Regions from separate parts of the Homo sapiens genome. Here region 1 is linked to region 2. The links come from fine-mapping of genetic effects on gene expression. A gene starts in region 2. The other region holds a variant in brackets. All regions are shown on one strand. Distances are between the middles of the regions. Region 1 overlaps FBXO42 (F-box protein 42). Region 2 holds the start of SZRD1 (SUZ RNA binding domain containing 1).

Region 1 (2,913 bases), 40 kb before region 2:
TTATAAAGCATACCAAATTTCATAACAGATACCAGCTGCAGTTTTTAAAAATGGTGAACTCATTAGTGTGCTACCCAATTAAGATTCCCTTAATAAAACAGAAAAAATTTAAAAATGGAAAAATAAAGTATTCCACAAACTACCCATCAATATACTTTCTTTTTTTTGTTGTTTTGTTTTTGAGAGAGTCTGGCTTTGTCACCTAGGCTGGAGTGCAGTGAACTCACTCGAGCGATTCTCCTACCTCAGCCTCCAGAGTAGCTGGGATTATAGGCATGCGTCACCACGCCCAACTAATTTTTGTATTTTTAGTAAAGACAGGGTTTCACCATGCTGGCCAGGGTGGTCTCAAACTCCTGACCTCAGGTGATCTGCCCACCTCGGTCTCCTAGAGTGCTGGGATTACAGGCGTGAGCCACCACACCTGGCCGAAAATTTCATATGGAGAACCATACGTTTTAAATTCAGCAAAATGCTTTATTTGGTAGAAAGGTAAAATGGAACTTCAGTGCCCAAATTTGTGTGTGTGTGTGTGTGTGTGTGTGTGTGTGTGTCTGTGTGTGTCTGTGTGTGTTTTGAGATGGAATTTCGCTCTTGTTGCCCAGGCTGGAGTGCAATGGCACGATCTCGGCTCACTGCAACCTCCACCTCCTGAGTTCAAGCGATTCTCCTGCCTCAGCCTCCCAAGTAGCTGGGATTACAGGCATGCACCAGCATGCCCGGCTAATTTTGTATTTTTTCGCAAAGACGGGGTTTCTCCATGTTGGTCAGGCTGGTCTCGAACTCCCGACCTCAGGTGATCCATCTGCCTGGGCCTCCCAAAGTGCTGGGATTACAGGCATGAGCCACCGTGCCCAGCCTCTTTATTGTTAATACAACTACTCGAGTTTTAAAATTTCTTCTTGAGGCCAGGTGCAGTAGTTCATGCCTGTAATCCCAGCACTTTGGGAGGCCAAGGCAAGTGGATCACTTGAGTTCAGGAGTTCAAGACCAGCCTGGGCAACATGGTCAAACTCCATCTCTACAAAAAATACAAAAATTAGTGGGGTGTGGTGGTGCACACTTGTAGTCTCAGCTACTCAGGAGGCCGAAGTGGGAGGATCACTTGAGCCCAGGAGGTAGAGGTTGCAGTGAGCCAAGATCACACCACTGTATTGCAACCTGGGCAACAGAACCAAACCCTGTCTCAAAAAAAAAAAAAAAAAGAAAAAAATTATTCTTGAGTTAATTCTGATA[GGTGATGTTTTT/G]TCTAGGATTTATAAGTCATCTAAAACACGTAAGCCAGAATCAACTACACCTTTCATTACTCACATAATTTAAACAAACAACTAATAAAACATGGAGATGAGCTACATAAATGTCATCTAAGTAATGGCTAAAGGCCCTTAAACAAGATAGGTCTGCTCTGAAAACATTCAGTTTACTATGAACCATTTAATCTTCCTAATCCCAAAAGGTGTCAACCAGGAAGCCTGCTCACTTACACAGCACCATCTCTCTCTCACCATCTCTCTCTATGACCCACTTCTAAATGTCATTTTAACTTCCTTTTTTCCCCATTAGAGTGTACACTACTTGAGAGCAGAGACTAAGCCATATTATCTTTGTACATCTGGCACATTAGTAGACACCTTAACAATATCGGTACTTTTTTGATGAAGATCATAAAGTACCTTACTGACGAGGGATGTTAATGACTCACTTACGGTTGCAAAGTATACTCTTGAGGTGTTCAGTGTTGAAAGACTTCACTGAACCGTACTTTCACATGGCCTTGCTTATGACCAAAAGCACAAAGCCATCTGTAAGACAGTTCATCTTAGTTGGGAGTAGAGCATAAAATGTATTTTTCTTCACTGACGAATTAACTGAAATAAAAACAAATCTTAAGCAAAGGCATAATTACACTTTTATGTAAATGTGCAATACTGTCAGAAGCCTAGCTGAAAAACCAAAAAGTAAAACAAAACAAAAATGCTAACTTTTAATCGTGGTAAGTCCCAGAAGAAAAACATTAAAAGGAGTTCAAAATTAGAAAGATAAATAGATTCAGAGTTAAAGATAGAGCCTAAACTATTTTGCCCAAACCATTCAATTCTTTAAAGCATTTTAAAATCCAAGTAACACAGAAAAGTGACCATCCTAAGAGTAGAGCTTGATGAATTACTGCAAAGTAAACACAATCTCATTTATTTTAAGATGGGAAAGTTTTTGTTTTGTTTTTTAAGACGGAGTCTCGCTCTGTTGCCCAGGCTGGAGTGCAATGGTGCAATCTCTGCTCACTGCAACCTCTGCCTCCAGGTTCAAGCGATTCTCTCACCTCTGCCTCCCAAGTAGCTGGGACTACAGGCACACACCACCACACCCAGCTAATTTTCGTATTTTAGTAGAGACTGGGTTTCACCATGTTGGCCAGGCTGGTCTCAAACTCCTGACCTCAAGTGATCCGCCCACCTTGGTCTCCCAAAGTGCTGGGATTACGTGTGTGACCCACTTTGCCCAGCCAGGACAGTCTGAAACAATCAAAATGATAGACATATCCAAGTCACGCAGCTTATACTGACAAGTGCCACTGTGAGAAATTCCAAGGTTTTCTATAAAACTGGTAAGACTCAAAGCTCACAACCCACATTTGTCAAAACCCACAGCATCAAAGAGTGAAATTTAATACATGTAAATTTTTAAAAAAAACCACTTACTCAGGAGGCTGGGGGATCCTAGATTATGATAAAACAATCCAACTATATTACAAATATATGAGACCACCTTGGGTGGAGGAAAAGGTGTAACCTAAGTAACTTTGGAAATAAGGGGCATCTATAAAACTAAAGGCAAAAGAAACTTCATATAAGCACTAGTCTCTACTTGACAAAGTTGTTTCTCACAAAAGCAGAGGCTAACAATACTAATCTA
Region 2 (2,913 bases):
GACACTCCCATAATGATAATAGCTAACCCTTAGGACTCTTACTATGGGTCAGGCACTGTTCTAGGCATTTCAGCATAGTAACTGGTTAAATTCTTACAATCTACTTTTGAAGTAGCTATCTCTAATGTATACACTTGGGGAACTGAGACATAGAATCCTTATGTAACTTGCGTTAAGATCACACAGCTTTTTTTTTTTTTTTTAGTAGAGATGGGCTTTTGCCTCGTTGCCCAGGCTGGTCTCAAACTGCAGGGCTCAAGCGATCCCCCCGCCTCACCCTTCCAAAGTGCTGGGATTATAGGCGTGAGCCACCATGCCCGGCCACATAAATAACTTTTTTTTGAGATAGAGTTTTGCTCTTGTTGTCCAGGCTGGAGTGCAATGGCGCAATCTTGGCTCACTGCAACCTCCGCCTCCCAGGCTCAAGCGATCTTCCCGCCTCAGCCTCCCGAGTAGGTGGGATTACAGGCATGTGCCACCATGCCCAGCTAATTTTGCATTTTAAGTAGAGACGGGGTTTCTCCGTGTTGGTCAGGCTGGTCTCGAACTCTTGACCTCAGGTGATCTGCCCACCTTGGCCTCCCAAAGTGGGATTACAGGTGTGAGCCACTACGCCTGCCCTGACATAAATAATTTTTTTTTTTTTTGAGACAGAGCCTCACTCTGTCGGCCAGGCTGGAGTGCAGTGGCATGATCTCGGCTCACTGCAACCTCCACCTCCCTGGCTCAAGCAGTTCTCCTGCCTCAGCCTCCGGAGTAGCTGGGATTATAGGCGTGTGCCACCATGCCCAGCTAATTTTTGTATTTGTAGTAGAGACGGGGTTTCACCATGTTGGCCAGGCTGGTCTTGAACTCCTGACCTCAGGTAATCCGCCTGTCTCGGCCTCCCAAAGTGCTGGGATTACAGGCGTGAGCCACCGCGCCTGGCCAGTAATTTTTAGAGGTAATACTAACGTATTTATCTACCATTAAAGACCCAGGAGAACTTAGTAGCTGGGAATCCCACTGGTTCTCCCAACTGAGGTGCAATATTATCTTTACCGTCTTTACCTTACGGTAGCGGATATAGTGTTAATAAATGATTAGAATACTGCTTTATGAGCAGGAAATACTGTAATGATTTTCACCCTATCAGAAATAATAAAATGTTTTCTGCATCAGCAGATATTTTTCATCATTTGTTGGTGTTTAAAAATGTTTTCAGAATTCTGAAGATACCATTATCTGTAGTTTAGGAAAACTACGACTCACTTTAAAAGAAAAAAAGTTTTCTTTAATTGCCTGCCCTTAGAAAAGATGGTTCCACAGAACACACTTCCGGTACTCGAGATGAGGACTTCCCTTGAACGCCCATTCTGTAAGACAGATAACGCGTTGGCCCTTAAGAAAGATGGCATCTTTCCGCCTTCTCTGCCCCCTTCCAAGATGGCTGCCCTAATGTACACTTGGGACCTTGCCTGGCGCCTCTTCCGGGCTTGGCAGCGGGCGGGGTCCATTGAGTAAAGCCTTGCGTGCCTGCGCCCGCGACGGAGGCGCGCTTCAAAGCGCAGGCGCGGGGAGGGGGTGGGGGAGGAGGGAAAGCGGCGAGTAAGATGGAAGATGAGGAGGTCGCTGAGAGCTGGGAAGAGGCGGCAGACAGCGGGGTAAGGAGGAGCCGCCGTCCCATGGCAGGGCCGGGCGAGACCTGGCGTGAGGGGAGCCTCCGGGGAGCGGGTCTGGAGATAGTTCTCCCCAAGGAAGGGCCCCATACGCCGGGCTGGGGGTGGTGGAGAGGCCCCCAGTTCCTGAGCGCCGTGAAGGCCTCTTAAAGGGGCCGCGATCCATTTCTCTCCTTTCCTTTGCCTGGTGCGCCTCCCTCCGCCCACTAACGCGCGCGTCACCCGGGGCGCCCCACCCGCCACCCGGGGCCTCCTTTCCTGACCCCCCGCGCCCACTTGCTGGCCGTGGGCCTCTGTGACTCTTTCCGATGAGCCTTGTGGCCCGAGGCACCATTTTAAAGTTCTTGTGCTCTGACCGGGACGGACACACCATGTGGGTGGTGGTGGGGCTTGCGCGGACCAAGGAGGCATGTCCGGCTTCGCAGGAAAGCGGGAGGAGGCAGCCGAGGGCGGGGGGAAATTGAATCCTCTTTGGGCTACTCAACTCTGCTAAAATCCCCCACCATCCGTCACGGTGGACGAGTCGGGTTTTTTTTCTCTTTCACTTTTACTCCAAGAAGAGTTTGTGGGCAGGCAGGCAGGTCTCACGGGGACTCTGCCAAAGCAACCGAAAGCTCTGCGGGGCAGCTCCTCTGCCACTCAGCGATCCGAGGCCCCGGGAAGGTCTAGGAGTTCGCTTGTCGGAGTCCAGGGTGTGATATGTAAAACAGCCACATTCTTGGGAGAGGAGTGGGGAGATGGACCGTTCGACTTGTTTTTGGAGTTTTTGTTTGCCTCCAGAAACTGTAGGAAAATAGTTTATCTCAAAGAGGATCTGTCAATTCTCTTAGATTTGTGAATAATTTGGTCTTTTCAGAGTTTGTCTGTGGTGACCCTTGTGAATATGGGGAGATGCTTTTTTTGTCTCCCCGTGTTCGCGTCTGTTCAATGCTGGCTGCACTGACATCCACCTTAAAGGTTTACGTGTGCGAGGAGTCGAGCGTACCAGGGTAGAGTAGGCGCTGGGTTTTTTTTCCTAAGCGCTTTTTGGGGGTGCTTATGAGCTCTGGAAGAGGCCGGGAAATTGACCCTGGCAGCAGTCAGTGGGTGTATCTAGCTCTACGGGAATGTTGAAACTTGGCTTTGAAGTTTTTTCCGCTGGTTCAGCATTTCTCTCAACGGTTGTTTATGTTTTTCCATTTAGCATAATTGAGAATTTGAAGGATTCGTTCGTTCAGAGGATATTTAGTAGAGTTCTTAATGTGACAACCATCTT

The links.
Region 1: its variant is fine-mapped to the expression of SZRD1 in whole blood (INTERVAL, PIP above 0.99).

Annotation. Positions count from the first base shown.
Region 1 is chr1:16,325,496-16,328,408 of GRCh38, forward strand. The region is part of intron 1 of FBXO42 (F-box protein 42); the gene reads right to left. Among named protein-coding and RNA genes, the nearest start is that of FBXO42, 26 kb to the right of the region's middle. The variant GGTGATGTTTTT/G (reference allele first, on the strand shown) is at 1,237.
Region 2 is chr1:16,365,666-16,368,578 of GRCh38, forward strand. SZRD1 (SUZ RNA binding domain containing 1) reads left to right here and starts at 1,577. Exons shown (of 4, transcript NM_001114600.3): 1 at 1,577-1,643. The coding sequence starts at 1,593. RefSeq lists enhancers at 1,274-1,333, 2,084-2,373.